2 separate regions of the Homo sapiens genome follow, and region 1 is linked to region 2. Evidence: fine-mapped expression QTL. A gene starts in region 2. The other region holds a variant in brackets. All regions are shown on one strand. Distances are between the middles of the regions.

Region 1 (5,161 bases), 39 kb after region 2:
AAGTCTGGTAAGGCCCCTGGGCAGGCCTGTTTTAGCTCTCCGAACCTCAGTTTTTCTATCTGTAAAATGGGGTGACGGGAGAGAGGAATGGCAGAATTTTGAGGATCCCTTCTGATTCTGACATTCAGTGAGAATGATTCTGCATGTGAAGGATCTGATTCTCTGTCTAAGAAAGAAGTCTTTACCTCTTTAAGTAGGGAGCAATGATTTCATTTTTAAACCTTGACTATTTATTCAGCAACTTCTCTGCTCTATGAGATAGTGTAGGAATGGGGATGTGGTTGAAGAATGAAAAGAAAAGTCAGCTCCCGCCCTCCTAGAAATTGCATCTGCCTTCACAGGTCAAGGATATTGGATCAGACCTTCTGCGGTTCTGAATGGAGATTACACAGGTTAGGAGCAGGTTGCACAGTGTTTCCAATTCTCTATAATTAAAGCCATAGACTTTCATGTATTGAAAAAAGCAAGAATTGCATTCTTGACAGATTCTTTCATTGCCTTAAAAAGAATGACTAGCCTTGGGAGTCTGGGCAGCTGGGTCCAGTGTTGTAGACTTTCTCTCTGCTGAGCCACAGCTTCAAAGATTTGTCCTTCTTGTTTCCAGGGATCTATTTCTCAGACAATAAGTAAAGGCTTTCCCTGGCCTAATGTGCTGTAAGTGAATGCTACTATATATGTTCCAGGCACTGGGCTAGAGACTAATATTTAAAAGCCAGGAAATTTCCTATAGAAAATCTATATCTCAGGGTTTTCTCAAAAGAGCTGGGAACTCTGGATGCCCATTCATGATTCCAGTAGTTAACCAGAGTACAAGAAGGGCTGAGTCTTCTCAGATGGGCAAACCCACTCTGGCTGACTGCAGATCCACCAAGCCTATTGTCTTAGACCAGGACCCTTTGGCAACTCATTCCCATAAGCCTGTGACCCTTGCTTTAAATATGCAGGCCTTGTCTTCTCTCAAAAAGCACATCAAGGCTGCAGCGAATGCAGATATCAAATGATGAAGTTAAAAACAAAAGCTTTGCTGGGCGTGGCAGCTCACACCTGTAATCCTAGCACTTTGGGAGGCTGAGGCAGGAGGATCACTTTAGGCCAGAGGTTCAACACCAGACCTTGTCTCTCAAAAAATAAAAAATTCAGCTGGGTGCGGTGTAGTTCCTAGCCACTTGGGAGGCTGGGATGGAAGGATCCCTTGAACCCAGGAGTTCAAGGCTGCAGTGGGCCATGATTGCATCACTGCACAGGCGACAGAATTAGATCCCATCTCTTAAAAAAATAAAAAATTTAAAAGTGACTTCAAAAATCTATGCTGTGATGGAGAGATTTTTCCTTCTGTATGATTGTGATAGCTCTGTGGCCTATGACGTCATCAGGTTCTGGGCAAAGTGTAGGTTTTCTGTTTCTTTGTTTTTGAAACCATTGCACAGTCCTAAGAAACATCACATTCTGGGTCCTGGGCACCAGCCAACATGAGGTTGATATTTTAAGGGGTCTGATGTTATTTGCTGCCTGTTGATGGAACTTGGGAGGGCACCAGGGTTTGCTCATTGCATTCTTGACAGATTCTCTTATTGCCTTAAAAAGAATCACTGGCCTTGGGGAGTCTGTGGCTGGCTGGGTGCAGTGTTGTGGACTCTCTCTGCAGAGTCATGGAGCCTTGTTCAGAATGCTTCCTGAGCTGCCCTGGTTGGCCAAGGGTAAAAACAGCCCTGACTTCCCTGCAAGAAACACTGCAGCTGGGCCAGAGAGTCAGCCCATCCCAGGCATGGGTTTAAAAAGTGGAGGCTTTTGTTTGAAAGCCCTGCTCTAATTTTGTCCTCACTCAAACCTCTGTTCACTTGATCTGCTTTAGGCTCCGAGGGAACACTTTCTCTCTAGAGGAGGTTGACAAGCTCGGCTGCAGGGACACCAGACTCTTGCTTTGAAGTCTCCGGGAGGATGTTCGTCTCAGTTTGTTTGTGAGCAGGCTGTGAGTTTGGGCCCCAGAGGCTGGGTGACATGTGTTGGCAGCCTCTTCAAAATGAGCCCTGTCCTGCCTAAGGCTGAACTTGTTTTCTGGGAACACCATAGGTCACCTTTATTCTGGCAGAGGAGGGAGCATCAGTGCCCTCCAGGATAGACTTTTCCCAAGCCTACTTTTGCCATTGACTTCTTCCCAAGATTCAATCCCAGGATGTACAAGGACAGCCCCTCCTCCATAGTATGGGACTGGCCTCTGCTGATCCTCCCAGGCTTCCGTGTGGGTCAGTGGGGCCCATGGATGTGCTTGTTAACTGAGTGCCTTTTGGTGGAGAGGCCCGGCCTCTCACAAAAGACCCCTT[A/C]CCACTGCTCTGATGAAGAGGAGTACACAGAACACATAATTCAGGAAGCAGCTTTCCCCATGTCTCGACTCATCCATCCAGGCCATTCCCCGTCTCTGGTTCCTCCCCTCCTCCTGGACTCCTGCACACGCTCCTTCCTCTGAGGCTGAAATTCAGAATATTAGTGACCTCAGCTTTGATATTTCACTTACAGCACCCCCAACCCTGGCACCCAGGGTGGGAAGGGCTACACCTTAGCCTGCCCTCCTTTCCGGTGTTTAAGACATTTTTGGAAGGGGACACGTGACAGCCGTTTGTTCCCCAAGACATTCTAGGTTTGCAAGAAAAATATGACCACACTCCAGCTGGGATCACATGTGGACTTTTATTTCCAGTGAAATCAGTTACTCTTCAGTTAAGCCTTTGGAAACAGCTCGACTTTAAAAAGCTCCAAATGCAGCTTTAAAAAATTAATCTGGGCCAGAATTTCAAACGGCCTCACTAGGCTTCTGGTTGATGCCTGTGAACTGAACTCTGACAACAGACTTCTGAAATAGACCCACAAGAGGCAGTTCCATTTCATTTGTGCCAGAATGCTTTAGGATGTACAGTTATGGATTGAAAGTTTACAGGAAAAAAAATTAGGCCGTTCCTTCAAAGCAAATGTCTTCCTGGATTATTCAAAATGATGTATGTTGAAGCCTTTGTAAATTGTCAGATGCTGTGCAAATGTTATTATTTTAAACATTATGATGTGTGAAAACTGGTTAATATTTATAGGTCACTTTGTTTTACTGTCTTAAGTTTATACTCTTATAGACAACATGGCCGTGAACTTTATGCTGTAAATAATCAGAGGGGAATAAACTGTTGAGTCAAAACAGCCATCTTCCTTGTGACCAAACATTTAAAAATATTCTGGCTGGGCACAGTGGCTCACGCCTGTAATCCCAGCACTTTGGGAGGCCGAGGTGGGCAGATCACCTGAGGTTGGGGGTTTGAGACCAACCTGACCAACATGGAGAAACCCTGTCTCTACTAAAAATAGTGGAGGTTGCAGTGAGCCAAGATCACACCGTTGTCCTCCAGCCTGGGCAACAAGAGTGGAACTCCATCTCAAATAAATAAAGAAAATAAAAAATAAAAATATTACTAAAACTTGTCAAATTTTAAAGCACAATTTTCTACTTGAAGCGGAGGAAAATGATGTTTTCAACCCGATAATGTATAGCTTAAGGCAAAAGCAATTCTTAGAAAATAGCCAGGCAATCAAAACACTTTTGGCTTCAGTTTAGAAAAGTTTAACCCCGTGAAGTTTTCAGCTGTGCAGGAGCCTCCCCGTACCCAGCCTAAAAGGCTGCAACACATGTGAAAAGGCCCCTTGGCCCCCCTCGATTCCCTCAAAGTGGCTCCAGGAGTCTTTAACAGAAGGATGGAGAAGGTTTACTTATGGCTGGCTCTCCACAGCGAGCAGCCTCTCATGCAGGCCTTGTGTTAAAATAGTGCTTAGCTGCGTTTAATAAGCAAGGGATCAGGTGGTCACCCAGCAAGGTAAAATCCTACTTCCTTGAAAGGTTTTGCGTCTGGCTGACTCGGTGGTGTGGCATCTCCCTGGACCCTGCATGGGAGTGTGTCTATGGGTTTTCTTTGTGATTGGTGCCCTGTTCTGCCCAGACCATTGTTTCTGATACAGCAGATCAGGAGGAAGGTGGTGTTGAGTCTCCTTTCGCTGAGGAGTACACACAGCAGCCCATTTGCATAGCACTGTATTGGGTTGTCAGTTTGTCATCTTTAAATTCATTCAGCAATGAGGCCAGGCATGGTGGCTCATGCCTGTAATCTCAGCACTTTGGGAGGCTGAGGCAGCTGGATCACTTGAGGTCAGAAGTTCAAGACCAGCCTGGCCAACATGGCAAAACCCTGTCTCTAAAAATAGAAGAAGAAAAAAAAAAGTTAGCTGGGTGTGGCAGCGCACGCCTGTAATCCCAGCTACTTGGGAAGCAGAGGCAGGAGAATCGCTTGAATCTTGGAGGAGGAGGTTGCAGTGAGCTGAGATCATGCCACTGCACTCCAGCCTGGGCGACACAGCGAGACTGTCATAAATAAATAAATAAATAAATTCAGCAATGATTTATTAACCAGTTATATTAGGATGACCAGTGGATTGACAAAACAGACATGGTCCTCAAGGTGCTTAGGTGAGGGTGGAGGGAGAGGCAGGCAGAAAACAAGTCAGTTGAAAAAGACATGAAAAAGTCTTCATCCAGGCACTGTGGCTCATGCCTGTAATCTCAGCACTTTGGGAGGCCAAGGTGGGCAGATCACTTGCGGTCGGGAGTTCGAGACCAGCCTGGCCAACATGGTGAAACCCTGTCTCTACTAAAAATACAAAAATTAGCCGGGCATGGTAGCAGGTGCCTGTAATCCCAGCTACTTGGGAGGTTGAAGCAGGAGAACTGCTTGAACCCGGGAGGCAGAGGTTGCAGTGAGCTGAGATCACACTACTGCACTCTAGCCTGGGCAACAGAGCAAGACTCCGTATCAAAAAAAAAAAAAAAAAAGTCTTCAGGCTGTTAAGGGGCTGGTCCGAGACAGGTTGTCTGAGGAGGTGCCAGGTAAGCTGTGTCCCCAAGAATGAGAAAGATATGGCCAAGCAAAGAGTGAGAGGGAAGAAGGGAGCATTCTAGTAATGGGGGACAAGAGGTACAAAGACCCTGGTGAGGGAAGGAGCGTGGTATGCATGGTAGGCTCAATAGTCACTCCCGAACATATGTAGATCCTAATCCCCGGGACCTGGGAATGTTGCCTTACCTGGCAAAAGGGACTTTGGAGGTGGGATTCAGTTAAGGGTCTTGAGATGG
Region 2 (5,161 bases):
GTTCTAGGCCTTGGGAGAAGGCAAGGGACAAAGCAAAAATTCCCTGTTCCCTTGGAGCTCATGCTGTCTTGGGTGAGAGACCAACAACAAAGACAATAAATAAGTAGAATACATAATGTGTTGTGTGCAGATAAGCGCTATGGAGAAAAATACAAAATAAAGCAGGAGAGAAGGGATTGGAGGGTGTTGCAGCTGTACACCGAATAGTTAGGGAAGGCCTTGCCGAGAAAGTCATATGGAAGCAAAGACCCAAAGGAGAGGAAGGAGGGAGCCAGGTAGATTTCTAAAGAAAGAGCATTCCAGGCACAGCAAAGGCAAAGGCCTGAGTGTAACTGCAGGTTTGGCATATTTGAGGAACAGCCAGGAGGCCAGTGTAGCTGGAGCAGAGTGAGTAAGATGAGAGTGTAAGAGGTGGGCAGAGAGGGTGCCAGAGGCCAAACAGCAATTGTAAGGACCTTGGCTTTTACTTTGGGATGGGAGCCATCAACAGAAGAGTTTCAGCAGAGGAGTGATAGAATTTGACTTAAAACAGCAACAACGACAACAACAGCAAAACCAACAGACTCACTCTGGCTGCTGGATTGAAGAAGGGCTGTAGATGGAGGCGTGGAGAATGGCCAGGAACTCCTGCTATCACCCAGGTGAGAGATGATGGAGATGTGGACCCAGGTGGTAATGGTGCATATGGCAAAAATGGGCTGCAGCTTGGAAATATTTGAAGGCCAAGCTGAAAAATTTGCTCCCAGATTGGATAGTGGGGCTGAGAGAAGATGGGTCGGGTTAAGTGTTCTAGGTTCAGATGTTCTGTCAGTTTTCTTAATTAATTTTCTGTTACTGGGCATTAGGGAGGTTTCTAGCTTCTCACTGCTGTAGGCAAGATGGTGGTGAACATCCTTGTAGATGGTTCTGTGCGCTGCCCAGAATGAATTTTCTAGGGTAGATTCAGTCCTTCTAATGCAGCATTTTCCAACCTTGGCTGACTGTGCACCACCTGCACAGGTATTTACTTGAAAGCGGTATGGGGTAGTGGTTAGAGCATTCATCTGTGCCAGAGGCCTGGGGCAAATCCCCATCTCTGGTGCCAGAGGAAAGGGGGCATCTCGAGGCTGGGGAGGCCCCTGGCAGGAGTGAGAAGTCCTGAGGAGCCCGGGCTTCAGGTCTCAGAGGGGGCCACTGTTTTTTGAGTACCTTCCTCTCTGTGGGACTCAGTTTCCCCATCTTCACCATGCCAGTGAGTGGGTGGGTGTAAGTGAGCGAGTCTGCCTGGAGGATCCTACTGCTGCTCTCTGCACCTCTTAGGGGAATCTCCTGCCTCCTCCTTCTCCCTTGGTGGGCGTGAGATCAAAGTTCAAATGTGTACCTCAGTTTCTGCATCTATAAGTTAGAGGCAATAATAGTCAATACCCTAGAGGTGGAAGTAACTGAGTTACTGTCTGTAAAGACTAGCACATGGTAAACACTTTCTAGATGCCAGTTATTTTCGTTATTTTTAAAAATTGACTTCACATTTTTTAAAACAACCAAATATGAGTTTCAAAAGGAACATTTACATTAACATGTTAAATGGAAAACCGGTGTCATTTGCTCCGGAGAACAGAAGAATGTAAAATAAAATATATTTAATGGAAACAAAAACAATGCTATTAAAGCTAATTAGATAGTTTCAGAGCCAAGTAATCTAGGCAGTGCTAGAAAGGTACTCAAACCCTATTAGTACTAAACTGAGAAATAAACTCCATTCAACATAAACGGAAAAACTGAAAGGAAAATGAAAAAAAAGAACCTTAAATGACCAGTCCACTCTTACCTAACATGTAACCTGTCACACTCTGGAAAAGTTTTCCTAGTTTTGGCTGTGTGTGCGTGTGTGTGTGTGTGTGTGTTGGGAAGTGAGGCGTGTGTTGGGAAGCGATGTGTGTGTTGGGAAGCGATGTGTGTGTGTTGGGAAGTGGGGTGTGTGTATATTGGGAAGCATGTTTGTGTGTGTTGGGAAGCGGTGTGTGTGTTGGGAAGTGGTGTGTGTGGGGTGTGGTGTGTGTGTGTTGGGAAGTGGTGTGTGTGTGGGGTGTGTGTATGTGCACGTGTGTGTTGGGAAGCAGTGTGTGTGGGGTGTGTGTGTGTTGGGAAAGCAGGGAGTGTAGTGTGTGTTTGTGTTGGAAAGTGGTGTGTGTGTGGGGTGTGTGTGTGTGTGCACGTGTGTGTTGGGAAGCGGTGTGTGTGGGGTGTATGTGTTGGGAAAGCAGGGTGTGTGTGTGTTGGGAAGTGGTGTGTGTGTGAGTGTTGGGAAGCAGGGTGTGTGTGTTGGAAGTAGGGGGTGTATGTGTATCGGGAAGCATGTTTGTGGTGGGGGGAAGCAGGGCGTGTGTGTGTGTGTATGTGAGTGTTGGGAAGCAAGGTATGTGTGTTGGGGGAAGCGAGGGCTGTGTGTGTATTGGGAAGCATGTTTGTGTGTGGGGGGAAGCGAGGGCTGTGTGTGTGTATTGGGAAACATGTTTGCGTGTGGGGGGGAAGCAGGGCGTGTGTGTGTGTTGCGAAGCGGTGTGTGTGTGGTGTGTGTGTGTGCGCGTGTGTGCTGGGAAGCGGTGTGTGTGGTGTGTGGTGTGTGTGTGTGTGTATGTGTATGTGTTGGGAAGCGGGTTGTTCCGAGGACTCCCCGATTCCCTCCTGGTTGAAACGTGGCCCAGAAAGAGAGGCACACTGGCTAGGGCACACAGCCAGGGCCGTCCAGCCCCGCAGGAAGCCCCGGTCCTGCCCTGTCCCAGGTAAGCCTGGCCAGCCCTGGAGCCGGCGCTGCGGGGCTGCGGGGCTGCGGGGCTGCGGGGCCACGGGACAGGAGCGGGTGCTGCGGTCCCGGCAGAGCAGGGGCGGGGTCCGGGCGGGGGCGGAGCCGAGCGCCCGCGCACCCGGAGCCGCAGCCCGAGCCGGAGCCGGAGCCGGGAGTCGTGGCCCGGAGTGGGCCTTGGAGTCGGCGCGCAGGCGGCTCGCGGTGAGTGCTGTGCCCAGCGCCTGGGGGTGGGCTGGGGGGAGACTGTGGGCGCCGAGGGTCCCACCCCCGGGACTTGAACACTTGGCTTCTGAGCCGTCCTGGCCGCAGGGCTTGGGCAAGGGTTGCCTCGGTTTCTCCTGGGGGAGTCCCAGAATGTAGATGGGAAGTGAGACGGAAAGGGGGCATCTCGAGGTTGGGGAGGCCCCTGGGCCACTCTTTTGATTTCCTTCCTCTCTGTGGGACTCAGTTTCCCCAGCTTCACCATGCCAGTGAGTGGGTGGGTATAAGTGAGAGAGTCTGCCTGGAGGATCCTGCTGCTGCTCTCTGTACCTCTTATGGGAATCTCCTGCCTCCTCCTTCTCCCTTGTTGGGTGTGAGATCTAAGTTCAAATCCATCCCTTCCCAGACAGCCCACACCAGGACCTGCGAGGCCACATCCCCCAGCTGTTTGCTCTCCTATGCTTCTCAGGTTGATGGAGCAGCCATCTGGTCCTGCTTTCATTCCAACAAACTGAAAAGCCCTCCACCCCAATCCCCCTGGGGAGGACCTCCTGAAGCTGCATGAGGGCTGGGGGCTGGACCCCTGCTTCTGAGTTTGCTCTTTCTGAGCCTCTCCTGCCATGGCCTTGGTTTCCCCATGGGCTGTGACCTAGCCTCCTCCAGGGTCCTTGTTCTACAGAGGGGAAACACCTGCCCTGTCACCCTCCCCTGACCCCTTAGTGAAAAAGACCAGAGTGACATCCCCACCACCTGTACTTGCCTGTCCCGATCACTCAGCCATGGGGCTGCTGGGGCCCCTGAGTTTGTTGGCTGCTCAAGGCCCCTTTGCCTCGCTGCACCCTGGGATCTGAGGCTGGAAGCATCCTCATCCAGCCCACCTCCCTCCTACCCAGTGCAGAGCCCCTCTGTGACACATGCCCAGTGGTGGGGAGCTTATTACTGATGAGGTGGCTTTTTAGTGCCTTGCAGCTCTTGTTTCCTTTAGCTAAAATCTGTGGCTTACAGATTCTACACCTTGGTTCCATGTCTGTCTCCCGGAGCCATGCAGAGCAAGTCAGTTCTTTCATTCTTTCCAGCAGTCATCATTCATGCACTGGATGAGACACGAGACAGAGCAGTAGGAAAATCAGACAAAACCCCCTGCCCTCATGGAGTGCACACTCTAGAAAGGAATGGACAGCAATGAAATAAGTAAATACATGGCGTAGCAGGTGGCGGGAAGTACTACGAGTAAAACAAAGCTGGGAAGCAGGATGGGGTGCTGGGGCTGGGTATTGCATTGTATATAGCACAACCAGGGAAGGCTTCCCCAAGACCACGATAGCTGGGCAAAGTCATAAGGAATTGAGGGGTGAGCCACATGAGTATCTGGGGGGCTGGGAGGCTTTGGTTTTCACTCTGAGCATGATGGGAGCACGGGTTTGGAACAGAGGAGTCACCTGCTTTGACTTGGGGTCTGGCAGGCCCATCTAGCTGTGGGGTGGAGAATGGATCATGGGGGGGGTGGGGTAAGGGCAGAAGGAGAGCCCGTTGAGCGGATCATTGCTGTCATTCTCGGGAGAGACCATGGTGTCTTGCCCATGGCCCAGAGGTGGTTAAAAAAAAGAAAACCAGACATTCAGATTTGGGATATATTTCAAAGGCCGTGTCGATAGGGTTTGGGGTGCAAGAGAAAGGTAGAGTCAAAGATGATTCTGAGTGTTTGGCTCGAGCTTCTGGAGGTTTGAAGCTGCCATGAACTGAAATGGGAGTTGCTTAGCGGAGAGATCAAGAGTTTGGTTTTGTGCTTGTGGAGTTTGAGCTGCCCATTAGGCATCAATGATGAGTAAGCAGTTGGGAAAAGTTAAGGGCGGAGGTTGGAGTTGAAAATAAAACTTTGGGCATCATCACCATATAACTGGTATTTAAAGCCACAAGAGCAGGTGGGCTCATCTAGGGATGGAGTGATATGGAGAAGAGAAGGGGTCTAACCATTGAGTGCTGGGGCCCCCAGTGTTAGGAACCAGCCAAGAAGACAGAAAGAGTGAAAATCAGAGAGTTGGGGTGTCCTGGAGGAAATGAAGAAAATGCCCCAAAGAGGAAGGAGGGAACAAATATGACCAATGCCCCTGGCAGAGCAAGCAGGCTGAGGGCTGAGGATTGAGCAATGGGAGGTCACTGGTGACAGTTTCACTG

What was found. PIP is the estimated chance that this variant, and not a neighbour inherited with it, causes the effect. A credible set is the group of variants that fine-mapping cannot tell apart.
Region 1: its variant is the best candidate, but not a certain one, in a credible set for the expression of NOD2 in nasal epithelium (TOPMed, PIP 0.60).

The regions. Positions count from the first base shown.
Region 1 is chr16:50,729,895-50,735,055 of GRCh38, forward strand. NOD2 (nucleotide binding oligomerization domain containing 2) reads left to right here. Exons shown (of 12, transcript NM_001370466.1): 11 at 1-7; 12 at 1,853-3,181. The coding sequence ends at 1,925. It overlaps CYLD-AS1 (CYLD antisense RNA 1), which reads right to left. Exons shown (of 7, transcript NR_184279.1): 4 at 2,324-2,466; 5 at 1-59. Among named protein-coding and RNA genes, the nearest start is that of CYLD, 9.6 kb to the right of the region's middle. RefSeq lists a silencer at 3,624-3,918. The variant A/C (reference allele first, on the strand shown) is at 2,322.
Region 2 is chr16:50,690,677-50,695,837 of GRCh38, forward strand. NOD2 (nucleotide binding oligomerization domain containing 2) reads left to right here and starts at 2,930. Exons shown (of 12, transcript NM_001370466.1): 1 at 2,930-2,986. RefSeq lists a silencer at 2,650-3,159 and enhancers at 3,530-3,579, 3,820-3,899.